Regions from separate parts of the Homo sapiens genome. Here regions 2 and 3 are each linked to region 1. The links come from fine-mapping of genetic effects on gene expression. A gene starts in region 1. Each other region holds a variant in brackets. All regions are shown on one strand. Distances are from middle to middle. Region 1 holds the start of CNIH4 (cornichon family member 4). Region 2 overlaps NVL (nuclear VCP like). Region 3 has its middle 35 kb from the start of WDR26.

The links. PIP is the estimated chance that this variant, and not a neighbour inherited with it, causes the effect. A credible set is the group of variants that fine-mapping cannot tell apart.
Region 2: its variant is the best candidate, but not a certain one, in a credible set for the expression of CNIH4 in whole blood (TOPMed, PIP 0.54).
Region 3: its variant is the best candidate, but not a certain one, in a credible set for the expression of CNIH4 in pancreas (GTEx, PIP 0.61).

What each region holds. Positions count from the first base shown.
Region 1 is chr1:224,350,949-224,361,844 of GRCh38, forward strand. CNIH4 (cornichon family member 4) reads left to right here and starts at 5,931. Exons shown (of 5, transcript NM_014184.4): 1 at 5,931-6,045; 2 at 9,547-9,615. The coding sequence starts at 5,977. RefSeq lists enhancers at 5,584-5,723, 6,281-6,781 and a silencer at 6,004-6,373.
Region 2 is chr1:224,261,174-224,269,121 of GRCh38, forward strand. NVL (nuclear VCP like) reads right to left here. Exons shown (of 23, transcript NM_002533.4): 18 at 6,861-6,960. Among named protein-coding and RNA genes, the nearest start is that of MIR320B2, 8.0 kb to the left of the region's middle. The variant C/A (reference allele first, on the strand shown) is at 2,963.
Region 3 is chr1:224,464,295-224,475,190 of GRCh38, forward strand. It overlaps a transcript of CNIH3 not described here. Among named protein-coding and RNA genes, the nearest start is that of WDR26, 35 kb to the left of the region's middle. RefSeq lists a silencer at 9,696-9,865. The variant C/A (reference allele first, on the strand shown) is at 5,096.

The DNA.
Region 1 (10,896 bases):
TGAGACCAGCCTGGCCAACATGGCGAAACCCCGTCTCAACTGAAAACACAAAAATTAGCTTTGTCTTTTCATATAAATTTTGGAATATGGTTAAGATTTCTGCAAAAAATGCTACTATTGTTGCATGGTGGCATGTGCCTGTAGTCCCAGCCACTTGAACTGGGGAGGCGGAGGTTGCAGCGAGCTGAGATGGCATTACTGCACTCTAGCCTGGGCGACAGAGTGGGACTCTTGCCTCAAAAAAAAAAAAAAAAAAAATGCGAAATAGCTTGTATTTCCTACTCCATCTCGGGGAATACATGTGAGATGAGGTTTATGATTTTGATAAAATCTGGACTAATATAAATAAAATCTGTCATGATAGTGTGGATCATTCATTCAGGAACCATTTATTAACCACCAGCTATTTATAGAATAGAAAGTATTGGGATATAAAAATTAATAAAATCTGTTACTTTTATCATAATCTAAAGCAGGGGTGTCTAATCTTTTGGCTTCTTTGGGCCACACTGGAAGAATTGTCCTGGGCCACATATAAAACACACTAACACTAATGATAGCTGATGAGATGAAATAAAAAAAATGGCAAAAACAATTTCATAACGTTTTAATAAAGTTTATAAATTTATGGTAGATTGCATTCAATGCCGTTCTGGACCACATGTGGCGTATGGGCAATGGGCTGAACAAGCTTGATCAAACGTGTTCTGTCCAGAATTGGTGGGTTTTTGGTCTCACTGACTTTAAGAATGAAGCCACGGACCCTCGTGGTGTTACAGCTCTTAAGGTGGCACATTTGGAATTTGTTCCTTCTGATGTTCAGATGTGTTCGGAGTTTCCTCCTTCCGGTGGGTTCGTGGTCTCACTGGCTCAGGAGTGAAGCTACAGACCTTCGCGCTGTCACAGCTCATAAAGGCAGCGTGGACCCAAAGAGTGACAAACAGCAGGATTTATTGCAAAGAGCAAAAGAACAAACCTTCCACACTGTGGAAGTGGACCCGAGTGGGTTGCCACTGCTCGCTGGGGCAGCCTGCTTTTATTCTCTTATCTGGCCCCACCCACATCCTGCTGATTGGTAGAGCCCAGTGGTCTGTTTTGACAGGGTGCTGATTGGTGCCTTTACAATCCCTGAGCTAGACACAAACGTTCTCCACATCCGCACCAGAGTAGCTAGATACAGAGGGTGGACTGGTGCATTCACAAACTCTGAGCTAGACACAGGGTGCTGATTGGTGTGTTTACAAACCTTGAGCTAGATACAGAGTGCCGATTGGTGTATTTACAATCCCTGAGCTAGACATAAAGGTTCTCCAAGTCCCGACCAGAGTAGCTACATACAGATTGTCGATTGGTGCATTCACAAACCCTGAGCTAGACACAGGGTGCTGATTGGTGTGTTTACAAACCTTGAGCTAGATACAGAGTGCCAATTGGTGTATTTACAATCCCTTAGCTAGACATAAAGGTTCTCCACGTCCCCACCAGACTCAGGAGCCCAGCTGGCTTCACCCAGTGGATTCACCACGGGGGCTGCAGGTGGAGCTGCCTGCCAGTCCCGTGCCGTGCGCCGGCATTCCTCAGCCCTTGGGTGGTGGATGGGACTGGGCGCCGTGGAGCAGGGAGCGGCGCTCGTCGGGGAGGCTCGGGCCGTACAGGAGCCCACGGAGGTCGGGGAGGCTCAGGCATGGCGGGCCGCAGGTCCCGAGCCCTGCCCGGCGGGAAGGCAACTAAGGCCCGGTGAGAAATTGAGCACAGCAGCTGCTGGCCCAGGTGCTAAGCCTCTCACTGCCCAGGGCCGGCGGGGCCCGCGGGGCCGGCTGGCAGCTCCCAGTGCAGGGCCCGACGAGCCTACGCCCACCCAGAACTCGCGCTGGCCCACAAGCACAGCACGCAGCCCCGGTTCCCGCCCGCGCCTCTGCCTCCACACCTCCCCGCAAGCTGAGGGAGCCGGCTCCGGCCTTGGCCAGCCCAGAAGGGGGCTCCCACAGTGCAGCGGCGGGCTGAAGGACTCCTCAAGTGGCGCCAAAGTGGGAGCCCAGGCAGAGGAGGCGCCGAGAGCGAGCGAGAGCGAGTGAGGGCTGTGACGATTGCCAGCACGCTGTCACCCCTCAGTGTGACTGGCTAAGCACATAAGGAAGATAGTTGATGAGTATTTTTTTTCACCTTAAGATAACTGAGTATGTAATGAATATTCTGATAGAGATATGTACAAGGTACAATGGGAGTTTGGTAATAGCTGGTTTAATTAATTAGATAATCTGTTAATTGTATGTCTAGCTTTAACCTGTGAACCCTTTATGAATCTATGAACCTGTACTGCATCAGGCAAATCCAGTTGGGTTTTTGTGTTTTTTGTTGTTGTTGTTTGCTTATTTTTTTGAGACATAGTTTCATTTTGTTGCCCAGGCTGGAGTGCAATGGAGCAATCTCAGCTCACTGCAACCTCCACCTCCTGGGTTCAAGTGATTCTCCTGCCTCAGCCTCCCAAGTAGCTGGGATTACAGGCATGCACCACCACCCCTGGCTAATTTTGTATTTTTAGTAGAGACGGGGTTTCTCCGTGTTGGTCAGGCTGGTCTCGAACTCCCGACCTCAGGTGATCCGCCCGCCTCGGCCTCCCAAAGTGCTAGGATTACAGGCGTGAATCACCGCGCCCGGCTCAGTTGGTTTTGCCTTCATAGTAATTCTCCTGTTCTACTCTCCATGTGATCTCCCTGCTGACAAACTTGTTTCCCTTTCACACATTCAGTGCGCTAAATAGCCAGAATGAGATTTTAAAAATGTAAATCAGATTAAGCTACTTTTTTGCTTAGAACTCTGCAGTGGTTTCTCATCATATTAGGATAAAAATCCTTGCCAAGGGTCTACAGGGCCCATATAACCTTACCCTGCCTCCTTCTCTTCCTCTCAGCACTCTCTCACCCTTTTCCCCTGTGCTTTAGCCACAAGACCACAGTAGTCTTTTTTTCTATTCCTTTAACACATCAAGCCTCTATATACAACTGGGCCTCTGAAATTATTGTTCCTACTTTCTGAAACATTCTGCCCGCAGACCTTCACATAGCTATTGTTCAAATTTCTACTTAAGTGTCATTTCCTCAGCTTGGCTTTCTCTGATCACTCCGTCTTTCCCCATCCCCTTCCAAGTACTTATGACTGCCTGTCATTAGTATATTTATTTTGTCGTCTGTCTTTCTCACTGTAATGTAAACCACAGGCTTGTGGGGACTTTTCCCAAGGTTTGGAACAGTAGCTCATATATTCTGGCTGCTCAGAAAATATTGGTTGAATGAATAAATAACTTTGACACAACCGCTCACAGAGCTTATCACTGCTTGAAGTTATCTTTTTCCCATACTTTGTTATACTTTATTGCCTGTTCCTCCCACTCACCCTACTAGAGCAGCAACTTGTTTGCCTTGTTTATTTTTATATCTCTGGAGTCTAGAGCAGTTCTTGGCCTATAGCAGGTGTGTTGTCAGTAAATACAGCAGTCTCATCCACAGTTTTGCTTTCACTGGTTTCATTTACCTGAGGTCAATCACAGTCCTAAAATGTTAAATGGAAAATTTCAGAAATATACAATCCATGAATTTTAAATTGTGTGCCACTCTTAGGAGTGTAATGAAATCTCCTGCTGCTCACTTCATCCTGCCTGGGACATGAATTATCTATCCCCTTGTCCAGCATATCCATGCTGTCTATGCCACCTACCTGTTAGTCACGTAGTAGCCATCTTATCAGTTATCAGATTGACTGCAGCAGTATTGCAGTGCTTATGTTCAAGTACCCATTATTGTACTTAACAATGGCCCAAAGTTCAAGAGCAGTGAATACTGGCAATTCAGATATGCCAAAGAGAAGCCATGAAGTGCTCCCTTTAAGTGAAATGGTCAAAGTTCTTGACTTAAGGAAAGAAAAAAAAACCCTATGAGACTGCTAAGATCTATGGTAAGAACCAGTCTTTTATCTGTGAATTTCTGAAAAAGGAAAAAGGAATTTGTGCTAGTTTTGCTGTTGCAACTCAGACTACAAAAGTTATGGCCACAGTGCCTGATAAGTGCTTAGTTAAGATGGAAAAGGCGGCACAGCACAGTGGCTCATGCCTGTAATCCCAGCACTTTGGGAGGTCAAGGTAGGTGGATCACTTGAGGCCAGGAGTTTGAGACCAGCCTGGCCAACATGGCGAAACCCCAACTCTACTAAAAATACAAAAAATTATCTGGGTGTGGTGGCATGCACCTGTAATCTCAGCTACTCCGGAGGCTGAGGCAGGAGAATCGCTTGAACTTGGGAGGTGGAGGTTGCAGAGAGCTGAAATGGCGCCACTGCACTCCAGCCTGGGTGACAGAGTGAACTTCATCTCAGAAAAACTAAAACAACAACCACAAAAAAGATGGAAGAGGCATTACATTTGTGGGTGGAAGACATGAACAGAAAACATGTGCCAATTGATGGCAACGTGTTGAGCCAGAAAGTATTGAGCCTATACAAAGACTTCAGTGAGGGATTCCCTAAAACGAGTGATACCAAGCCACTTACTGCAAGTAATGGATAGTTACATGAATGTAAGAATAGATTTGGACTGAAAAATATAAAAATCACTGGAGAGGCTGCATCTGTCTCTTCATCTTATCACATAGGCATTTTATCATCATACATCATCTCAAAAAGAAGGGTCAGTACAATAAGATATTTTGAGACAGAAAGACCACATTTACATAACTTTTATTACAGTATAATTGTTCTATCTTATTATTACTTGTTAATCTCCTACTGTGCCTGATCTATAAATTAAGCTTTATCATAGGTATGTATATATAGGAAAAAACATAGTACACATAAGGTTTGGTACTATCCATCGTGTCAGGCATCCACTTGGGGGTCTTGGAAAGTAGCCCCTGCAAATACAACTGTATTTGTTAAATGAATGAATGGATGAGTAAGACATCGTATTCACTTCTTAAAGATCTTAAAATCTAGAGAGGAGAGAAACATTGCTGTAGGAGAGGATAAACAAAGGACTGTGAAATCTCTGGAGAAATTGAAATCAGGAAGGGAAGGGCAAATCGCAAAAGTCAAGCCAGGAGCATTAAGTTAGATTTGTGCTTTGAGATGAAAACCCCTTACAAATCCTAAGTCAGGGAATGCAATGGTTCTAGAGCCAACTCTAAAGAAAATTTCACACATGGGAAATACATCCTACTGGATATCCGGATTAAAAGCGTTCAGTAGAGACTGGTGCAGTGGCTCAGGCCTGTAATTCCAGCACTGTGGGAGACTGAGGCAGGCAGATCGCTTGAGCCGAGGAATTCGAGACCAGCCTGGGCAACATGGCAAAAACCCCATCTCTATTAAAAATACAAAAAATTAGCCAGGCGTGGTGGTACATTCCTGTAATCCCAGGTACTCAGGAGGCGGAGGTGGGAGGATCACCTGAGGCCAGGAGGTAGAGGCTGCAGTGAGCTGTGACCATGCCACTGCACTCCAGCCTGGGCGACAGAGTGAGACCCTGTCTCAAAAAATAAAATAAAATGAGAAATAATAAAATAAAATTAGCTGGGCATGTCGGGAGGCTGAGGTGGAAGGATTGCTTGAGCCCAGGAATTCGAGGTCATAGTGAGCTCTATCACGCCACTGCACTCCAGCCTGGACGACAGAGCAAGACCCCAGCTCTTTAAAAGAAAAGCGTTGAGTAAATACTTGTTGATTAATTCCATTTCTGGAAATAATCGGATTTATGAAAGAGGCCCTGCCCACCTCTTTGATATGGACTTGTACTAATGAACTACAATTCCCAGCATGCGTCAGAATTAGGGCCGTAGAGTTTTTTAAAATATGGACTACAACTCCCGGCATGCCACACCAGGATTCGAGGACCACACGCCTCAGCCAGCCCCGGCAAGGGCCTATCAGGGGTGGGTCGGGGCATCCGAGCGGGTTTGACGGAAGGAGCGGCGGCGACGGAGGAGGAGGATGGAGGCGGTGGTGTTCGTCTTCTCTCTCCTCGATTGTTGCGCGCTCATCTTCCTCTCGGTCTACTTCGTATCCTTGCCTGAGGCAGGCGAACGCCTTGCCGGGGGACACGGCTGAGGGTGGGCCAGTTGGGCACCCGGGCAGGTGTGTGGGACTAGGGAGGCGCCCGGCGGCGGGCGTGGGCTCCCTGGGAGCTGGCCTGGCCGGGGCGGTGGCGCGGGCCCCGGAGCGGGTAGGAGAGGCTGGCTGCCCTACCCGACGGGCCCTGCTGCCCTGCACGCACTTGCCCTGCCTGGGTTGCCGGCCGCCCCTCACTCGGGTCCGAGTGGGCCTCTCCGGGCGCGCCCCGTCTCGGCCTGCCCGCCTGCTCTCCGCTCGTCCCCGCGGCGCCCGGACCAGCCCTGCCTGAGCCACGGCCGCCCTCGGGAGAGAAGCGTCGCTGTTTTTCTGGGAGAGGCCCTGCGCCGTGCTCTTCGTCGGATATTGGGGGTCCCAAGGGCGGTCGCTTGCGACAGTCGGGTGCCGGGATAAGTGCGGGCCATTTGCCTCCTCCTGTTCCCCACGCAACACCCCCGGCACCCGCCCCTTTGTTCTGGCGGGTGTTAGTACTTGCAGGGACCTTTCACATCCAGGAGTTGACTCATTCGCCAAAGGAGCGAAGTTGCTTCCTTCACTGTGCCGTTTTGTAGTGAGTGTTGGAAAGGAGTTGTTTTAACAACTGTCTACAAAGTGATTATTTTGGTTGTCCCCGGTGGTTGCAGATCTGTAAATTCAATAACTACATCTGCTGTAGTTCCCAATCGTTTCTCAGCTTTTAAATTTTTCTATCGATCCATGTTAAAACTTAAGTTGCAGTATTCAAACTGTTTTCCAGAGCAATAAATGGTGGTTGAATTTAGCACTGCAGTAGCCATGTCGGCTACAACTCTTCCCATCTCTTGACAAAGCATCTAGGCTTAGTTGTTGCCCAATGTTGTATTGCACCATCCAGGTTTAAGTAATTAAATATAAGAAAAAACGTATGAGGAACTCCGCATTTCAGCTTCCTTTCTTGGAAATCACATGTACCTGTTTCTGATCGGATTAAACCATTTGTTTGCTAGAGCATGCGGGCTTTAGGATAGTCGTACAGAGTATATGTTCAGTGCAGCTTCATTTTTCATTGTGGACTGGCATCCTGTTGTAGTGGAAAGGGACAAAATTTGGAATCAGATTTCCTGGTCAGCTAGCTCTTTGCTTGCACATTATTTCCCTAAGCCTCAGTTTTCTGATCTTTAAAATAGGAAATGTTTATTTCCTAGATATGCACAATGAGAATGGTGCTGAGCACCCTAGCACAGTGCCTGCCCCATAGCTAATGTTCAGTAAATATTGCTCTGCCTTCGTGTCCCCACCCTCCCCAATTGAGCAGCAGTTTTTACTTTGATGATATCTAACGACAAGATTTCTGAGTTTTAGTAGGTTTGGGGAGCTGATTGAAAGGGCAGCATCACTTGCCTAAGTTTTGATGACCTCTATGCCCCTCTTGTGATATAAGGAACTAGAGCAAGCTTGTCCAACCCACGGCCCACGGGCTGCATGTGGTCCAGGACAGCTTTGAATGTGGCCCAACACAAATTTGTAAACTTTCTTAAAACATTATGATTCTTTTTTGGTGATTTTTTTTTAAGTTCATCAGCTATCATTAGTATTAGTGTATTTTATGTGTGGCCCAAGGCAATTCTTCTTCCAGTGTGGCCCAGGGAAGCCAAAAGATTGGACACCCCTGAACTAGAGCTTATGCTCAGAAATGTAGCTGGGTTTTTTCTTTTTGCAGTTTGGAAAACCAGGCTTGATAATTTTAAATAGCCCTGGTTTACACCAATTTATGCATTTAGAGAAATGGTAGGTGGAATGTTTGACTTAGACATTACATTAAAATACATTCGGGGGGTGTTTTGATGAAATTCAGCATATTCTGTATTTTAGAATAGTTGCACTAACTTAGGGATAGGAGGTGGAAAATGGTCACGGTAGACTTAATATAGGATATAAGAGTTTTCTTGGACTTTGAACTGTGGACAAAATCTACAGGAAGGGGAAGAGGTGAATATTCCAAATCAGACACTGGCAAGAGCGAAGGTGCAGAGACAGGTATGTTCGTGGATTTCTGGGCTATGGTTAACGAATAGACCATCTGGAGCACATGGTTGATTTTGGCGTCAGTAGAAGGCTAAGTTGGAAAGGCAGGATTACATCAGATTTTGGAGGGCTTGAATGTTAAGGGTGGGAGGGAAGTCTTTCACTTTTATCCTGCAGGCAATAGAGAGCCATTGAAAATTTTTATTTTCGGTAGTTTATTAGGAAGATGAATCTGCCGAGTGGGTTGGAAACAAGAAAGATTGGAAGATAAACCAACTGGATAGGGTCGTCTGGATTTCAAATAGAGTGCTGGTTGTGGGCAGGTGAAAGGAGGGAATATGTGAGTAGTATTTAGAAGAAATGATTGCCAGGACCTACAAATGAGTGATTATGATATATGAAACAGAAGGCAGAGATAGCTTTCCATATTTTGATCCTGGGCAAGTGATACTTGTGTCAGTAACAGAAATAAAACAAATTGGAGGAAGATCAATCTGTGGAGAAAGTGATGAGTTTGACTTTATTTTATTTTCATGTTTATTTTTGAGACAGAGTCTCACTGTCACCCAGGCTGGAGTGCAGTGGCGCAATCTTGGCTTACTGCTGCCTCCATCTCCTGGGTTCAAGCGATTCTCCTGCCTCAGCCTCTCAAGTAACTGAGACTACAAGTGCCTACCAAATCTGCTGCTCAGACTGGAGCGCACTGGTGTGATTATAGCTCAGTGTAACGTGAATCCTGGGCTCTAGGCATTTTGCTGCCTCACCTTAGCAGTACTGCTACTAATAGCTAGCATTACAGGTGCTCATGCCCGGCTAATGAAAAAAAAAGAAAAAATTTGTAGAGATGGGGGTGAGGTGAGTGAATCACTTGAAGCCAGGAGTTCGAGACCAGCCTGGCTAACATAGTGAAACCCCGTCTCTACTAAAAATACAAAAAATTAGCTGGGTGTGGTGGTGGCGCGCACCTATAGTTCCAGCTACTTGGAAGGCTGAGGCACAAGAATTGCTTGAACCCAGGAGGCAGGGGTAGCAGTGCGTTGGAATTGCGCCACTGCACTACAGCCTGGGTGAAAGAGATGGAGGCTTGCTATGTTGCCTATGCTGATCTTGAACTCCTGCTTCAGGCGATCCTCCTGCCTCAGCTTCCCAAAGTGCTGGGATATTTCCCATTTTTTTTTTTTTAATAGCCATTGTTTTACATTTGAAGAACTCAAACTAAATGTTCTGGTTGGGTCAGATTAGATTTGAGCAAAATAGGATTATTTTGTAAAATAATTTGTTGAAGGAACATGAATGGGAAAATTGAGTTGTCTAATGAGCAAACTTTAGGAAACAACTCATTTTTTTCAAGTCAAATCTAATTCTGCCTTGTAACTGGGATTGCTTTCTGAAACTTAAATACTTAGTTATTATAAAAGAAATATAATAATTCCTTATCTTGATCATCAGATAATTACATTGTCTGATTTAGAATGTGATTACATTAATGCTAGATCATGTTGCTCAAAATTAAACAAGGTAAGACATTTCTTTGCTCATTCTCTGGCATTGAAGCCAGGTCATTTTCCATACTTAAGATTATTATAGATAACAGATGTATTTTTGATTTTAGAGTACATGTTGTCTCTTATTCATTGGAAATTTGATGGAACTGCTGTGTTTTACAATATTTTAGATCATGAAATTATGCTAGAAGATCTGACTTGAAATTTTGTTTCTTTATATGTTGCTTGTCTCTTGTTTACAGCGGATAGCATCTTTACTCAGAGTAGGGAAATGTTCATCATGAGGGTAATTGTTTTTGTCTTCTGCGTTGGAACTCCCTCCTCCCACTCACGGAAAAAAGCTCAAGTCTGTCTTTGGTTGAATGAAAGAAGACCTTTCTTGTGTAGTTTACCGAGAAAATAATTTTTTTTTAATGTATGACTCTTTATTTATTTATTTATTTATTGAGAGAGAAGGTTTCTTGCAGTGGTGATCAGGCTATTCTTGAATTCCTAGGCTCAAGTGATCTGCCTCGGCCTTCTGAGTAGCTGGGACTACAGGCGCATGCCACCATGCCTGGCTAATTTTTTTTTTTTTTTTTTTGAGATGGAGTCTCACTCTGTCACCCAGGCCGGAGTGCAGTGGTGTGATCTGGACTCACTGCAGCCTCTGCCTCCCAGGTTCAAGCGTTTCTCCTGCCTCAGCCTCCCAAGTAGCTGGGATTACAGGCACTGCCACCACACCTGGCTAATTTTTTTTGTATTTTTCATAGAGATGGGGTTTCACCATGTTGGCCAGGCTGGTTTCAAACTCCTGACCTCAAGTGATTCGCCTGCCTCAGCCTCCCAAAGTGTTAGGATTATAGGTGTGAGCCACCGTGCCCAGCCACCTGGCTAATTTTTAAATTTTTTTGTAGACTGGGTCTTGCTATGTGATCTAGACTGGCTTTGAACTCCTGGCCTTAAGCAATCCTGCTGTCTTGGCAAAGTGCTGGGATTACAGGTGTCAGCCACCATGCCTGGCCTAAGCTCCATATTTTAAAAATTTTCATAAATTTTGTTTGATTGTTTGAGGCAGAGTCTCACTCTGTTGCCCAGGCTGGAGTGCAGTGATGCGATCATGGCTCACTGCAGCCTTGACCTCCTAGGCTCAAGCGATCCTTCCACCTCAGCCTCCCATGTAGGTGGGACTACAGGTGTGTGCCACCATACCTGGCTGATTTTTAAAATTTTTTTGTAGAGACAGGGTTTCACTATGTTGCCCAGGCTGGTCTGAAATTCCTAGGCTCAAGTGATCTGCCCTCTTTGGCCTCCC
Region 2 (7,948 bases), 91 kb before region 1:
TAATTTTTATTTTGTAGAGATGGGGTCTTGCTTTGTTGCCCAGGCTAATCTTGAACTCCTAGCCTTAAGAGATCCTCTTGCCTCAGCCTCCCAAAGTGCTGGGATTACAGGTGTGAGCCACCACACTTGGCCCTTATTTATTTTTTCAACTGAGCCATGCATAGAAGGCAGAAACTCTTTCTGGATTATACTACTGGTAGAAAATACGTAATTATTGAGTAGAAGAGAAAGTAATAAGATATTTGGGTTTCATAATTGTGCAGGAATATCTTTTTTAAACAGCTAGATAATAGATTAAGGGGGAACAGGTAGTTCCCTAACTGAGAACATCGTTTACTGGAGTTGGTATGTGAAAAAGAGAATGCAAAGATGTGCATAGGAGAGACTAAGGTTAGGGTACAAAGAACTGCATTTCCTCTGGTTAAGCAAAAGGAAGTTCGCTTATTTCCAGAAGAAGATGTGGACTTTGATATAGCACACATTAGAAGAGGGCTAGGGCTATGCACGGTGGTTCACACCTGTAATCCCAGCACATTGTGAGGCTGAGGTGGGAGGATCGCTTGAGCCCAGGAGTTTGAGACCAGCCTGGGCAACATAGTGAGACGTCATCTCTACAAAAAAGTTTTTTTTTTTTTTAATTAGCTGGGTGTAGTGGTGCGTGCCTGTAGTCCCAGCTACGTGAGAGGCTGAGGTGGGATGATCTCTTGAGCCTAGGAGGTTGAGGCTGCAGTGAGTGGTGATTGCACTACTGCACTCTAGCCTAGGCTATAGAGTGAGACCCTGTCTCAAAAATACAAATAAATAAATTAAATAAAAGAAGAGGGCTGTCCCAGTTCTTCAGAATAACCAAAGGTGGAATGGTGAGAGGACAGTATTTTCATTTACTTTCTAAGCATTAATACCTCAATAATTGGGAAAAAAATTAAAGGCAAGAAGATGAAAAATAAGAAAAAAGAGGACATTTAGGAGATCAGTCCAGGAGGGTTTAAGATCCAAGTGCTAAGCACACAAATTAAACAAACAAACAAAAAGTCACATAGAAGGAATGAGAATGACATGGAACCTTTAAAAGAAAAAAAGCAATGTCTATAAATTATGAAGAAAAATAATTTTAAACTCAAAATTATATCCCAGCTAGGTTACTAATCAAAATTAGGGTGGAATAAAGATATTTTTAAATATAAAAGAACTATGGGGGATGGTCTCACATTTGGAAAAACAAATCAAATATACAAGCAGTCAAAAAAATCTACTTCCTACATAATCTTTCTTAGAAAAGCCACTGAAAGATAAGTACCAGCAAAATGAGGGTGTAAGCAAGATAAAAAAAGTACACACAAAAAACCCATGAGATCAGAAAAAAAGGGCAAACAAAGGAGAACAGTCAAGGAAGTCCTGAAATAACAGCTGTTTAGACCACAGGCCTAAAGCAACCAGTCCAGATTAGAGCCAGGAAGGTGGAAAGCTCCAGAGGGAGGTCTCCAGAAACAAACAAACAAATGGAACTGGTACATCGTTTGAATAAATAACATCGACAGCTGTATAAAATATGTGATGAACAGTAACAGAAAACAAAGCAAAAGAAAAAAATGAGGGCCACTGAATCCAAGGACAAGAGTTATATGAGAAAGGAAACCTAATCAGTGTCATGCTTGGGTCAGCAGAGAGAAATAGTGACACAGCCATAGTAATGTAAACACTAGTGACTTAACCAAGAGTTCTGATCAAACTATATTACAATACTGGGAGAATGGGGAAGAGGACAGATGATGTGGCAGTGATGGTGGGAGTGGAGGGTATGGAGAAAGGGTGAACATAAGATAACTAAATCTTCATCTACCTTAAAATGAAGTTAATGGGCAGTGTTTAAAATTGATAAGAAATAGCCATAAGAGCATATTTGAAAATATGAAGGAAAAAAATAGCTCAAGTGGTTGCCTCTGGGCAGGGGATTAGAAGGGATGGGAGAGAAAACTACAGTTTTTGTTATAAGCTTTTCCTGCCATTTGATTTGAAACTGGGTCCCTCCCTCTATATGTCAAAATTACAACTGGAGATGAGATTTGGGTGGGGACACAGAGCCAAACCATATCACTCACCAAGGTTCAACTTTTGCACACATGTAGTTTTCTCGTAGGGCTGTTGTGAGGTTTACAATGGTAAAGCATCCAACAGAGGGCCTGGCACTTAGTAGGTGCTCCAAGAACCTAGTTGTTATTACTGGTGATTGTTTTAAATAATATGGACTTGTAAAGAAAATGAAATAAACTTATTTTCATCTCCTTGAACAGACATTTTAGAAAAGTTGGTCTTTTTCTAAAGTGTCCTTTTTCTCCAAGTGTCCCCTATCTCAGAAGTGGCAAAACATTTTACCCAGTATAGGTAAAACAATCTAACAATAAGAATAGCCCTTATTTATTTTCTTTCTCTTATCCCACATCTAATTCCAGAAAATCCTATTAGTTTTACTTTCAAAATGTGTCTCAAATTTTACCACTTCTTACTTCTCCCATTAAGCTCACACAAATTCTCCATGGACTGTAGATCTTCTGGCTCAGAGTATCTTTTGTGTCAAGGACTTCTTTGGAATACAGAAAGTTTATAGACTGCTTCTTAAACATTTTTCAATGTATAAAGTAAAAACATCAGAAAGATTACAAGGTGAAACCCCATCTCTACTAAAAATACAAAATTAGCCGGGTGTGGTGGCACATGCCTGTAATCCCAGCTACTCGGGAGGCTGAGGCAGGAGAATCACTTGAACCTGGGAGGCAGAAGTTGCGGTGAGCCGAGATCATGCCACTGCGCTCCAGTCTGGGCGACAGAGCAAGATTCCGTCTCAAAAACAAACAAACAAACAAACAAACTCCAAAAAGATTATAATTATTTGGCAGCCGGGTTGGGAGAGAGACCAAGGATTGTGAAGACATTGTGAGTAAAGAGGCCACTGTGGAAATGGATT[C/A]TCTGGTCCAGCCACTCCAGCTGATAGTACGTGGATCCAAGATGAACCACCCAGACAAGCCCATCCCAAATTCCTGACCTAAAAATTGTGAGCCAAATAAAAATGGTGATTTTTTTTTTTTTTTGTGAGATGGAGTCTCACTCTGTCGCCCAGGCTGGAATGCAGTGGTGCTATCTGGGCTCACTGCAACCTCCGCCTCCTGGGTTCAAGTGATTCTCCTTCCTGCCTCAGCCTCCTGAGTAGCCGGGATTGCAGGCGCCCACCACCACGCCCAATTAATTTTTGTATTATTAGTAGAGATGGAGCTTCACCATGTTGAGCAGGCTGGTCTTGAACTCTTTACCTCAAGTGATCCTTGGCTTCCCACAGTGCTGGGATTACAGGTGTGAGTCACTGCATCCAGCCACAAATGGTGATTTTAAAGCACTAAGCTTTACAGTAGTTTGTTATGCAGCAACGGCTAACCAGAACATCAAGCAAGAAGGGAATTCTTAAAGCTAAGCAGAGAAGTTATAAGCAATCAAAACAATGTCACGTGATAGTATACAATGGAGCAGAACTGCCAAATAAGCATGAAAACAAGTGAAGAAGATCTAGAACGTTTATTATTATTATTATTTTTTGAGACAGAGTCTCGCTTTGTCACTCAGGCTGGAGTGCAGTGGTGCAATCTCGGCTCACTGCAACCTCCGCTTCCCGGGTTCAAGTGATTCTCCTGCCTCAGCCTCAGCCTCGCAAGTAGCTGGGACTACAGGTGTGTGCCACCATGCCCGGCTAATCTTTTTTAATTTTTAGTAGAGACGGGGTTTCACCATGTTAGCTGATGGTCTCGATCTTCTAACCTTGTGATCCGCCGGCCTCGGCCTCCCAAAGTGTTGGGATTACAGGTGTGAGCCACCGTGCCCGGCCAGAACATTTATTTTTAAATGTAGGTCGTTAATGCAACAGATTTGTTACAGGGGAAAAAAGGATGGAAGAGTTTTAGGGGAAGACAATATACACACATAGGGAAAAAACAAAACACCGGTACCACATTATGATTCATCTGCCATTTCTGCCATTCTTAACACAGGTTTTAAAATAAACAGGCCAGGCGCAGTGGCTCATGCCTGTAATCCCAGCACTTTGGGAGGCCGAGGAAGGCAGATCCTCTGAGGTCAGGAGCCGAGACCAGGCTGGCCAGCATGGTGAAACCCTGTCTCTACTAAAAATACAAAAATTAGCTAGGCGTAGTGGCACGTGCCTGTAGTCCCAGCTACTTGGGAGGCTGAGGGAGAAGAAATCTTTGAACCCAGGAGGCAGAGGTTGCAAGGAGCTGAGATCACACCACTGCACTCCAGCCTGGGCAGTAGACCAAGACTCTGTCTCAAAATAAATAAATAAATAATAAAATAAAATAAACAAACTTAAAATATGGTGCGGGCTGTTAACGATAGAATAGGTTATTACAGGAAACGAAAGATTGATGCTGTGGTTTGAACGTATTCCCCAAATTTCACGTGTTGGAAACTTAATCCCCAATAAAACAGTGTTGAGATGTGGGACCTTTAAAAGGTGATTAGGTCATGAGGGCTCTGCCCTCATGAATGATGCTGGTTTCAAGAGAGTGGGTAAGTTATTACAGGAGTGGACTCTTGATAAAAGGATATGTTTCGCCACTCTCACTATTTTTTAAATAATAGAGACAAGGTCTCACTATGTTGCCCAGGCTGGTCTTAAACTCCCAAGCTCAAGCGATCCTCCTGTCTCAACCTCGTAAAGTGCTAGGATTACAGGCATAAGCCACCATGCCCAGCTTGGCCACTTTCTTTCTTTTTTAATGTCTACTCATTTGTTAACTATGTTTCTGTATGATGTTATTAATATACTGCACATATGACAAGTCATACATCAAAACCAGATAGTACAAACAATTAAACAGATAATAATTTTAGCATTTTCTGTCTCACCACTAACAGATATTAAGCCCATCCTTACTAATTTATGCTCCTCACTTTAAAAAGGATGATCATATACTGGAAAAAACTGGATCAATGTATTTCTTCAATGAGGCTTTTTTGAGAGAAACAGGGCCCTCATTTCCTACTCCCCAGGATCCCCCCTCTCTCTGCTTCTTTCTTCTCCAGACTTCCTCCAGTGAAACTAATCTTTTGCTATACAAAATGCTTTTTGGTAGGCTGAAGAAAACAGTTGTTTAGCTCAGGCAGTTGAGATAAATGTCCAAAGATAGGGTAAAATTAATTAAACTTTATTTGTCCACCTTTACTCATGGGACCATGGTTTCTTCCTGTCCAGGCCACTTTCCTTTTGCTCTCTCATGCATGCTCTTGTGCTCTTCTACCCTTTCGCCTTGGGGTGATGCAGCAAGAAGGCCCTTGACAGATGCAGGCCACTCAGCCTTGACCTTCCCAGCTTCCTGAACTAGAAGAACTGAATCTCTTTTCTTTTTAACACAAATTACCCAGTTTCAGGTATTCTGTTACAGCAAAACAAAACAGACTAAGACAAGCATCTTCTTGAAATATGTGAGAAAAGATCTGTATCTGCTTATGAAAGGGACGATGTGATTCTGTTCAACTCTGAGGGACTTTCTTCTAGGATGACTCTGTGATTTTATGACCTAATGACTGTTCCCACTACTATTACCAAACTGCTTATGAACATGATAACAATTACTAAATAGCTACGTGCTGTTTAACACCACTGTGGCAGATACATTACCAACATCATTTAACTTTTGTGGCAATCCTGCCAATTAAGTATTATCATCTTCATTTAAAAAGTGCCAAAATGATGGTCAGCAAGATAAAGTAATATAGTCCCAAGGTTACTATGGTATAATACAGAATATAACTGGTCTTTGCCCACCTTTCCTGGCATAGATCTTCAAAAATCCTTGCAATTTCCTGAGTGCCAGGAATATCTTTGTTGAGCTAATGTGGTGACGCATAGTGGCCCCACAGATAGCTTCGGGCAGGGGACTGATCACCAGAAAGATCAAGCATGTGATTAGAGTTGTAACTCCGAGCCATCTTCTGCACTTCTGTAGTCTTGAGCCCTTTTCTGAATCCCTCAAAGAATGCTTAACCTTGAAAACAATTTTCAGTAATTATTCAGGGCAGATATAGGGGCATGGCTCCAGCATAAAATCCTAAAAATCTATCTTTAACTTCTACTAGAGTGAAGAGTCTCGTTTTTGTTTCCTATAAGCTAGAGAGAAACCACAAAACACAAATTCTGAAAATACTTTTGTGGTCAAAAGTGTATGCTGGTCGGGTGCAGTGGCTCACGTCTGTAATCCTAGCACTTTGGGAGGCCGAGGTGGGCAGATCACCTGAGGTCAGGAGTTCAAGACCAGCCTGGCCAACATGGCGAAACCCCATCTCTACTAAAAATACAAAAAATAGCCGGGCATGGTGGCAGCACCTGTAATCCCAGCTACTCAGGAGGCTGAGGCAGGAGAATCACTTGAACTCAGGAGGCAGAGGTTGCAGTGAGCCAAGGTCATGCCACTGCATGCCAGCCTGGGTGACAGAGCGAGATTCTGTCTCAAAAAAAAAAAAAAAAAAAAGTGTATGCTGCAACTGTTCTCAGCCAAAAAGAGCTTTCTAAGCACCGACACAGAAAAGCAATCTCATGGGATCCAAGCAGTAATACTATACTTTTTACTATAGCTTATGCAAAAGCTTTCTAAGCCTTTATTTCAACTATGAAGTTTCCTTTCACAGAACCAAAAATGGATTGCCCAAATTTAATCTTCCTTTCCTAGGATGCATGTGAATTATATTGTTTATAAATGCTACTAGTTTTTACTTTTATTTTTAATTATCTGAATCTCTTCTACGGAAATGCTGTAAGTTTTTAGATTCATCTGTGTTACAATATTTTTATTTCTTACCTGGCCTGTTAGTGGCTGCCATAATAAAAACCTGCTGGCGTGCTTCCAGACCATCCATCTCTGTAAGTAGCTGATTCACCACTCGGACACTTGCCCCTGTCTAAAAAGACATAAATCTGGTTCCATCAGCTCTCAATACAAAGGAAAAATACCCATTTTCTTCCACATAAAAATAATACATTTCCCCATGCAAAGGAGATAACAATGATAATTTTCTGAGGCGTCACTATATGCAGACACTGTGCAAAATGTGTTCTCATCAGTGGACCTCCCCAGCAATCCTATTATTATCCAGTCTAAATGAGGAAAGTGAGGCTTAGAGGGATTATTTGTCCAAGTTCTCATCACTAGATAAAGGAAGAAATGAGACTCAATCTCAGGCTGAATGGATCCCAAGGTCTGATGTTTTCGAGTTACTCAAAGATCTAACCGTCACAATACACTTCCCTTGGGGCAAATCTACAGCTAGCTTTCGTTTCTTTGGTAGAGATGGGGTCTTGCTATGCTGTCCAGGCTGGTCGTGACCTCCTGGCCTCAAGCAATCCTCTTGCCTCAGCCTCCCAAAGTGCTGGGATTATAGGTGTGAGCCGCTGCACCCCACCAAGACTAAGCTTTTTTGTTTGTTTGTTTGTTTTGTTTTTTGAGATGAAGTTTCACTCTTGTTGCCCAGAATGGAGTACAATGGTGTGATCTTGGCTCACTGCAACCTCCATCTCCCAGGTTCAAGCAATTCTCCTGCCTCTGCCTCCCAAGTAGCTGGGATTACAGGCGTATGCCACGATGCCTGGCTAATTTTGTAATTTCAGTAGAGATGCGGTTTCACCACGTTGGTCAGGCTGGTCTTCAAACTCCTGACTTCAGGTGATCTGCCCACCTCGGCCTCCCAAAGTGCTGGGATTACAGGAGTGAGCCACTGCGCCCGGCCCTAGACTAAGCTTTTGAACCCCAAATTTCCCAGTATATCAGGTATTCTAGATCTCATTTTATTTTATTTTTAAAGCCAGTCAAATTTAACAGTGGGAGGTTGTATACCAACTTTGGTGAGACTAACTTTTTTTTTTTTTTTTTTTTTGAGACAGGGTTTTACT
Region 3 (10,896 bases), 110 kb after region 1:
TTTGAATTGATTTTTTTTTTGAGATGGGGTCTCTATATGTTGCCCAGGCTGTTCTTAAATTCCTAGGCTCAAGGGATCCTCCTGCCTCAGCCTCCCAGGTAGCTGGGACTACAGGCATGTGCTACTGCACCCAGCTAGTTAGTTTAATTTTTGAATAGGTAATACTTTTCCGTGCCTGGCTTTAAGCTAATTTTTATGTATGGTGTGAGTTATGGATCAAAGTTCATTTCTTTCTTTTTTGCATGTGGATATCCAATTGTTCCAGAACTATTTCTTGAAAAAACTATCCTTTCTCCATTGGATTGCCTTGGCACCTTTGTAAAAAATTAGTTCTCCATTTATGTATGGATCTATTTCTGATTTCCATATTCTGTTCCATTTATCTATTTTCCTTATTTATACCAAACCACACTGTTTTGATTCCTGTAGCTTTTAAATAAATCTTGAAGTCAGGTAGCATAAGTCTTCCAGCTGTATTCTTCTTTTTTTTAAAGATTTTATTTCATTTTATTTTATTTAAAGACAGGGTCTTGCTCTATTGCCCAGGCTGAAGTGCAGTGGTGTGATCACAGCTCACTGCAGTCATTAATTCTTGGGCTCAAGTGATATTCTCACCTCAGCCTCCCGTGTAGCTGGGCCCACAGGTGTGTACCACTAGGCCCAGTTAATTTTTTGATTTTTTGTAGAAACAGTCTCACCATGTTGCCCAGGCTGGTCTGAAACTTCTGGACTTGAGCGACCCTCCCACTTTAGCCACCTAAAGTGCTGAGATTAGAGATGTAAGCTGAGGCACCCAGCCAAGATAGTTAGAATTATCTTTTTTTTTTTTTTTGAGACGGAGTTTCGCTCTTGTTGCCCAGGCTGGAGTGCAATGGCACAATCTTGGCTCACCGCAACCTCCACCTCCTGGATTCAAGCGATTCTCCTGCCTCAGCCTCCCAGGTAGCTGGGATTACAGGCATGCACCACCACACCTGACTGATTTTGTATTTTTAGTAGAGACGGGGTTTCTCCGTGTTGGTCAGGCTGGTCTCGAACTCCCGACCTCAGGTCATCTGCCCACCTTGGCCTCCCAAAGTGCTAGGATTACCGGTGTGACCCACCATGCCTGGCTGGTTAGAATTATCTTTAACTCATCACAGTCTACCTTCAAGTTATATTGTATCACTTCACACATAACATAAGTTTACAGGAGTCTACCTTTGTTTCCCTCCTCATAGCTTTTATGCTGTTGTTGTCATACGTTTTACTTACACATTTGTTATAAACCACAGTCTATACTATTATTTTTGCTTGAACAGCCAGTTTTCTTTTTTAGATGTTTTATTTTGAAATAATTATAAACGGGATATTGCAAATAAATGTATAGAAAGGTCCTGTGCATCCTTCACCCCTCCTCCCTCAATGTTGACATTTTGCATAACTACATACCGTATCAAAACCAGGAAATTGGGCGGGTGCTGTGGCTCACGCCTGTAACCACAGCACTTTGGGAGGCTGAGGCAGGCAGATCACCTGATGTCAGGAGTTTGAGACCAGCCTGGCCAACATAGTGAAACCCCATCTCCACTAAAAATACAAAAATGAGCCGGGCATGGTGTCGGGCACCTGTAATCTCAGCTACTCGGGAGGCTGAGGCAGGAGAATCGCTTGAGCCTGGGAGGCGGAGGTTGCAGTGAGCTGAGATCTCGCCATTGCACTCCAGCCTGGGTGATGAGAATGAAACTCCTTCTCAAAAAAACACAAAAAACGAAAAACAAAAACCCAGAAATTGGCATTAGTACAATCCACAGGGTTTAGTCAGATTTTACCAGTTACACATGCACTCATTTGTGTGTGTATGTAGTTCTATGCAGTTTTATCATACATGTAGCTTTGTGTAATTGCCACCACAATCAAGATACAGACCCATTTCATCACCATAAGCCTCCCTGATGCTTTTATAGTCACATCTACCTTCTTTCTCCCCAGTCCATAACCCCAGCAGCCATTCTTCTGTTCTCCATCTTTTAATATTGTTATTCAAATACATTACGTAAATGGAATCACTTATGTAGTGTCATACAGTCTGTAGCTTTTTAAAAAAATCAATCAGCATAATTCCCTTGAGAACCAGCCAAGGCCTAATTCTATCGTAGTTTTTTCCTTTATGTTGCAGAGTAGTATCTGTGGTATGGATGTACTACAGTTTCTTCAACCATTTATACATTGAAGGACATTTGGGTGGTATCTAGTTCTTGGCTATTATAAATAGAGTTGTTATCAACATTCATGTATAGATTGCAGAGCGCATATAGGTTTTCATTTGCCTGGGATAAATGCCCAAGGGTGCAATTGCTGGGTTGTATGGTAAGTGCACTTTTAGTTTTAAAAGAAAATGCCAAAATATTTTCCAGAGTAGCTATCCCATTCTACATTCCTGCCAGCCATGTAAGAGTGATCCAGTTTTTCCCATATCCTTGCCAGAATTTGACATTTTTTATTTTATCACTCTGTTAGGCATGTAGTGATAATGCATTGTGGTTTTAATTTAGATTGCCCTAATCACTGAGGTTGAACATCTTTTTATTAGCTTGTTACCTGTATCTACTCCTCAGTGAAATGTTTTTAGTACACTTGCTAATTATATTGTTTGCTTTTCTACTGTTGAGTTTTGGAAATTCTTTATATTCTAGATACTAAATCCTTTGTTGGATATTTGGCTTGCAAATATTTTCTCCCAGTCTGTAATTTATCTTTTCATTCTCTTGAGACAGGGTTTCACTCTGTTACCCATGCTGGAGTGCAGTGGTGTGATCATGGCTCATTGCAGCCTTGACCTCCTGGGCTCAAGTGATCATCCCACCCCAGCCTCTCACGTGGCTGGGACTACAGGTGTGTGCCACCATACCCAGCTAATTTTTTCTGTTTTTTGTAGAGACATTTCTTGAACTGCTGGAAATGTTGCTGAGGCTGATCTTGAACTGCTAGACTCAAGCCATCTGCCCACCTCTGCCTCCCAAAGTGCTGTGAATACAGGCGTGAGCCACTATGCCTGGCTCTTTTCATTCTCTTAACAGGAGCTTTCACAGAGCAAAATTTTCTAATTCTTAAGAGGTCCAATTTATCAAGTTTTCCTGGATCATAGTTTTTGTTTGTTTGTTTGTTTGTTTTTGTTTTGCTCTCATTGCCTAGGCTGGAGTGCAATAGTGCGATCTCAGCTCACTGCAACCTCTGCCTCCTGGGTTCAAGCAATTCTCCTGCCTCAGCCTCCTGAGTTGCTGGGATTACAGGCAGGTGCCACCAAGCCCGGCTAATTTTTGTATTTTTAGTAGAGACGGGGTTTCACCATATTGGCCAGGCTGGTCTCGAACTCCTGACCTCAGGTGATCCACTCACTTCGACCTCCCATATTGCTGGGATTACAGGCATGAGCCACTGCGCCTGGCTGGGATCATAGTTTTGATATCAAGTTGAAGTACTGTTCTCCCAGCCGTAGGTTTTGAAGATTTCCTCCTGTTTTTTTTTTTTCCAAAAGTTTCATAGTTTTACATGGTATGTTTAAATCAATGATTCATTTTAAGTTAATTTTTGTAAAAGGTATGAGGCTCTTCTTTTTTTTTCTTGGCCTACAGACTTTTTTTTTTTCTTCACCAATTGTTGAAAGGGCCGTCCTTCCTCTATTAAATCATGTTTGTACCTTTTTTCTTTAAAAAAATCAGTTGTACATTCTTTTGTGATTCTATTGTTTCCTCTATTATATTTCATTGATCTACATATTTATTCTTCCACCAGTACTCTACTGTCTTGATTACTGAAGTTATTTAGTAAGCCTTAACATTGGGTAGAATGATTCTTCTTACAACATTCTTCTTTTTCAAAATTGTCGTAACTATTTTAGGTCCTTTACCTTTCCATATAAATTTTAGAATAAGTTATTTATATCTATAAGAAGCCTTGCTGGAATTTGGATAGGAATTATGTAAATCAATTTGGGAAAAATTGATGTTTTTAGTGTTGAGTTTTCTAAGTCATAAACACAGTATTTCTATTTATTTAGGTCTTCTGTGATTTCTTTCATCAACATTTTGTAATTTTCAGCATACAGCTCTTATACATGTTTTGTTAGATTTATAACTAAGTATTTCATTTGCTTTGTAGCAATTGTAAATGGTATTGTGTTTTCAGCTTTGGTTTCTACATGTTTGTTGATTTTTGTGTGTTGATTCTGTGTCCAGTGACCTTCCTTATTAATTTTTAAAATTGCAGTTAAAAATAGATTTATTAGGATTTTCTGTGTAGATAATTGTCATCTACAAATAGGGACAATTTTATTTCTTTCTTTCCAATCTGTCTGCATTTATTGTTTTTCTTTCTTTATTGCATAGGCTAGAACTTTCAGTACTGTGTTGAATAAGAATGATGAGAGTACGTCTGTGGTAGGAGAAGGTGGGAGCATCACTTGAGGCCAGGAGTTAAAGGCTGCAGTGAACTATGATCATGCCACTGCCACTGCACTCCAGCCTGCGTGACAGAGTGAGACCCTGTCTCAAAAAAAAAAAAAAAAAAAGAAAGAATGGTGATGCCATGTTCCTGATATTAGGGGGAAAGCATTCAGTCTTTCAGTCTTTCACCACTAATTATGCTGTTACCTGTAGTTTTTTGGTAGATGCTCTCTATCAAGTTGAGTCAGTTCCTCTCTAATCCTAGTTTGTGAAACTTTTTTTTTTTTGTGCACGTGAATGGGAACTGGATTTTGTAAAATGCTTTTTCTATATCAATATGGTCATATGACTTTTCTTCTTTTTTATTTTATTTTATTTTTTAGACAGGGTCTTGTTCTGTCACTCAGGCTGGAGTTTAGTGGTGCAATCATGGCTCACTGCAGCCTTTACTTTCTGGCGTCAAGTGATCCTCCCACCTCAGCCTCTTGAGAAGCTGGAGCTTCAGGTGCATGCCACCATGCCCAGCTAATTTTTAATTTTTTTTGTAGAGACAGGATTTTGCTATATTTCCCAGGCTGGTCTTGAACTCCTGGACTCAAATGATCCTTCCACCTTGGCCTCCCAAACTGCTGGGATTACAGGTGTGAGCCACTCTGCCCAGCCTGATTTTT[C/A]TTCTTTAGCCTGTTGATATGATGGGTTATATTGACTGATTTTCAAATATTGAACTGGCCTTGCATACCTGTAATAAGTCCAACTTGGTTATGATGTATAATTTTAAAGAATTTTTTATTATTTATTTGTTTTATAGCGACAGAGTCTTGCTCTGTCACCCAGACTGGAGCGCAGTGGTGCAAATCATAGCTAATTGTAATCTCAAACTTCAGGCTCAAGCAATCCCTCCGCCTCAGCCTCCCAAGTAGCTGGGACCACAGGCATGTGCCATCATTCCTGGCTAATTCTTTTTTGATATTGCTGAATTTAATTTATTAATATTTTGTTGAGGACTCAATTATCTCTTAAAGAGACATAAATAATAGGAAAAACATCTTACATATTTTACCTGTGTGGTAACCATTTCTGACACTCTTCATTCCTTTGGTTAGATCAATATTTCCATGTGGTATCATTTTCCTTCTACTTTCAGGCCTTCCTTTAATATTTTTTAAAGTCTGGTAGTGATGAATTCTGCCAGATTTAAAAAAAATCTGAAAACATCTTTATTTTCATTTTTGAAATATGGTTTTTAAAAAACTGGGTGTATAATTTAAACTTGGCAGTTCTTTCTTTCAGTTATTCTTCTTCTTCTTTTTTTTTTTTGGAGACAGAGTCTCGCTTTGTTGCCCAGGCTGGAGTTCAGTGGCGCGATCTCGGCTCACTGCAAGCTCTGCTTCCCGGGTTCATGCCATTTTCCTGCCTCAGCCTCCTGAGTAGCTGGGATTACAGGCACCCGCCACCATGCCCGGCTAATTTTTTGTATTTTTAGTAGAGACGGGGTTTCACTGTGTTAGCCAGGATAGTCTCGATCTCCTGACCTTGTGAGCTACCTGCCTCGGCCTCCCGAAGTGTTGGGATTACAGGCATGAGCCACTGTGCCTGGCCTTTTTTTTTTTTTTTTTTAAGAGGTAGTGTCTCACTCTGTCACCCAGGATGGAGTGCAGTGGCACGATCGTAGCTCACTGCAGCCTTCTTGGACTCAAGTGGTTCTCCTGCCTCATCCTCTCAAGTACCTAGGGCTACAGGTGTGTGCCACCAGGCCCAGCTAATTTTGTAAAACTTTTTTTGTAGAGACAAGGGTCTCCTTGTCTGGCCCAGGCTGGTCTTCAGCTCCTGGCCTCAAGTGACCCTTCTGCCTCGGCCTTTCAAAGTGTTGGGATTACAGGTGTGAGCCACCACACCCAGCCCTCTTTCAGTTGTTATTGTTTTTTGTTTATTTGTAAAAATGGGATCTGCCTATGTTTTGAACTCTTGGGCTCAAGTGATCCTCCCACTTCGGTCTCCCAAAGCGCTGGGTTTACAGGCACAAGCCACCATGCCTGGCCATCTCTTTCAGTTCTTTAAAGATGTTGTTCCATTGTCTTCTTGCTTGCATTGTTTCTTTTTTGGGGGTACATAGTAGGTATGTATATTTATGGTGTACACGAGCTATTTTGATACAGACATACAATATGTAATAATCACATCAGGATAAATGAGATATCCATAACCTCAAGAATTTATCGTTTGTGTTACAAACAATCTAGTTGTACTCTTTTAATTATTTAAAAGTGTACAATTAAATTATTTTTTACTATAGTCACCTCGTTGTGCTAGCAAATACTAGGTTTTTTGTTTGTTTGTTTGTTTGTTTTAGATGAGGTCTTGTTCTGTTGCCCAGGCTGGAGTGCAGTGGCACAATCTCAGCTCACTGCAAGCTGGGTTCAAGTGATTCTCCTGCCTCAGCCTCCCGGGTAGCTGGGACTATAGGCATACGCCACCACATCCAGCTCATGTTTTATATTTTTAGTAGAGACAGGGTCAGGAGTTCGAGACCAGAACTCCTGACCTCATGTGATCTGCCCGCCTTGGCCTCCCAAGGTGCTGGGATTCCAGGCGTGAACCACAGTGCCTGGCAGAAATACTAGCTCTTATTCATTCATTCTATTTTTTTGTACCCATTAACCATCCCCTCTTCCTCCCCACTCCCCCACTACCCTTCCCAGCTTCTGGTAACCATCATTGTACGCTCTATCTCCATGAGTTCAGTTGTTTTAATCTTTAGCTCCTACAAATAAGTAAGAATACGCAAAGTTTGTCTTTCAGTGCCTAGCTTATTTCCTTAACATAACTACCTCCAGTTCTGTTCATGTTGTTGCAAATGACAGAATCTCATTCTCTCTTTTTTTTTTTTTTTGAGATGGAGTCTCGCTCTGTCACCCAGGCTGGAGTGCAGTGGCGTGATCTCGGCTCACCGCAACCTACGCCTCCTGGGTTCAAGCAGTTCTCTGCTGCAGCCTCCTAAGTAGCTGGGACTACGGGTACCTGCCACCATGCCTGGCTAATTTTTTTGTATTTTTAGTAGAGACGGGCTTTCACCATCTTGGCCAGGCTGGTCTTGAACTCCTGACCTCATGATCCACCGGCCTCGGCCTCCCAAAGTGCTGGGATTACAGGTGTGAGCCACCGTGCCCGGCCTCTCATTCTTTTTTTTATAGCTGAATAGTACTCCATTGTGTATATGTACCACATTTTCTTTATCCATTCATTTGTTCATAGACACTTAGGTTGCTTCCAAATCTTGGCTATTGTCAATAGTGCTGCAGTAAACATGGAAGTGCAGATATCTCTTCGATATACTGATTTCCTTTTTTTGGGAGGGTGGGTATTTCCCTAGCAATGGGATGTCTGGATCATATGATAGCTCTATTTTTGTTTTTTTGAGGAACCTCCAAATTGTTCTTCATAGTGGTTGTACTAATTTACATTCCCACCAGCAGTGTATAAGGATTCCCTTTTCTCTACATCCTCACCAGCATTTGTTATTGCCTGTCTTTTGCATAAAAACCATTTAAAATGAAGTGATATCACATTTTCTATATGATAATAGAAGTCATTATATAAAAAAGATACTTGCACATGCATGTTTATAGCAGCACAATTCACAATTTCAAAAATATGGAACCTGCCCAAATGTCCATTAATCTATAAGTGGATAAAGAAAACATGGTATATATGTATACATCATGGAATACTACTCAGCCATAAAAAGGAGAGAAATAATGACATTCGCAGCAACCTGGATGGAATTGGAAATTATTATTCTAAGTGAAGTAACTCAGGAATGGAAAACCAAACATTATATATTCTTACTAATATGTGGGAGCTAAGCTATCAGGACGCAAAGGCATAAGAATGATACATTGGACTTTGGGGACCTGGGGAAAAGGATTGAGGATGGTGAGGGATAAAAGACTACACGCTGGGCACAGTGTACACTGCTAGGGTGATGAGTGCACCACAATCTCAGAAATCACCACTAAAGAACTTATTCATGTAACCAGACACCACCTGTTCCCCAAAAATCCTATTGAAATAAAAAAATTAAAAATCAAAAACCACAAAATTCAGAATTACAGGAGCTTTCCTCTCCCACAACCACCTAAGATTCTGGACAACTATATTTATAATGGGTATCTCAGATGATTCTCATGAATAAGTCATCCTGATAGATTTTAGGGCCAATTTTTCATAAGAATTCAAGGAAACTGTCTTTGCTGGGCTATGTGAAATTACCCAGAGCTGCTTATCTCTCATTGGCAGGAGGGTTTGGCATCAGTTGCAGGTGACTTATTTCCTTTTACTGTGGATGATAGAGATAATTGAAGAAAAAGCCTTAGTTTGTATTTAAAAAAATAAATAAAATAATGGGTTTGGAAGATATTATTTGCAAGCCTCATGGTAACCTCAAATTTAAAAACGTACAATGGATACACAAAAATTAAAAAGCAAAAAATTAAAACATACCACAAGAAAATCATCACCTTCACTAAAAGGAAGACAGGAAGGAAGGAAATAAGAGAAGACCATAAAACAACCAGGAAACAACAAAATGACAGGAATAAGTCCTTACTTATCAATAAAATAAGTAATTGGTAATCGACTACACTCAACAATCAAAAGGCATAGAGTGGCTGAATGGATTAAAAACAAAACAAAACAAAACAAGACCCAGTGATCTGATGCCTAAAAGAAATACACTTCACCACTTCTATGCAAATGGGAACCTAAAAAGAGCAAGAGTAGCTATACTTATATCACACAAAATAGGTTTCAATACAAAAACTATAAAAAGCGACAAAAAGGTCATTATATAATGATAAAGAGGTCAGTTCAGCAAGAGGATATAACAATTATCAATATATATGCATCCAACATGAGAGCACACAGGTATGTAAAGGAAATATTACTAGAGCTAAAGAGAGAGAGAGAGAGACAACAATAGCTGGAAACTTCAACACCCCACTTCCAGCATTGGGCACATCTCCTAGACAGAAAATCAACAAAGAAACATTGGATTTAATCTGCACTATAGACCAAATGGACCTAATAGATATTTACAGAACGTTTCATCCAATGGCTGCAGAACACACATTCTTTTCCTTAGCACATGGATCATTCACAAGGAAAGACCCTATGTTAGGGTACAAAACAAGTCTTAAAACATTCAAAAAATGGAAATAATATCAAATATCTTCTCTGACCACAATAAAATAAAACTAAAAACCAATAACAGGAGGAATTCTGGAAATTATACAAACACAAGGAAATTACACAGTATGTTCCTGAATGACCAGTGGGTCAATGAAGAGATAAAAAAACGAAAGTTTTGGCCAGGCACAGTGGCTCATGCCTGTAATCCCAGAACTTTGGGAGGCCAAGGTGGGCAGATCATGTGAGGTCAGGAGTTCAAGACCAGCCTGACCAACGTGGAGAAACCCCGTCTCTACTAAAAATACAAAATTAGCTGGGCATGGTGGTGCATGCCTGTAGTCCCAGCTACTTGGGAGGCTGAGGCAGAAGAATCACTTGCACCCAGGAGGCAGAGGTTGCGGTGAGCCGAGATTGTGCCATTGCATTACAGCCTGGGCAGCAAGAGCAAAACTTCGCCTCAAAAAAAAAAAAAAAAAGTTTTTCAAGAAAAAGTTTTCTTGAAACAAATGATAGTGGAAACACAACATACCAAAAACTATGACATACATCAAAAAAGGGAAGTTTATGGGTATCAGTGCCTACATCAAAAAAGAAGAAAAACTTCAAATAAACGATATAATGATGTATCTTGAAGAATTAGAAAAGCAAGAGCAAACCAAACCCAAAATAAGTAGAAGAAAAGAAATAATAAAGATCAGAGCAGAAATAAGTGAGATTGAAATGAAGAAAACAATACAAAAGATCAATGAAACAAAAAGTTGGTTTTCTGAAAAGATAAAATTGACAAACCTTTATCCAGACTAAGAAAAAAAGAAAGAAGGCCCAAATAAGGGAAATCGGAGCCCGGGCCGGTGGCTCACGCCTGTAATCCCAGCACTTTGGGAGGCCAAGGCGGGCAGATCACAAGGTCAGGAGATCGAGACCATCCTGACTAACACGGTGAAACCCCGTCTCTACTAAAAAATACAAAAAAATAAAAATAAAAAAAAGCCGGTCGTGGCAGTGGGCGGGCGCCTGTAGTCCCAGCTACTTGGGAGGCTGAGGCAGGAGAATGGCGTGAACCCGGGAGGCGGGGCTTGCAGTGAGTCGAGATCGTGCCACTGCACTCCAGCCTGAGCGACAGAAGGAGACTCCATCTCAAAAAAAAAAGAAAAAAAAAAAAGAAAATCAGAGGCTGGGCGCGGTGGCTCAGCCTGTAATCCCAGCACTTTGGAAGGTAGAGGCGGGCGGATCACGGTCAGGAGATCAACACAATCCTGGCTAACATGGTGAAACCCCGTCTTTA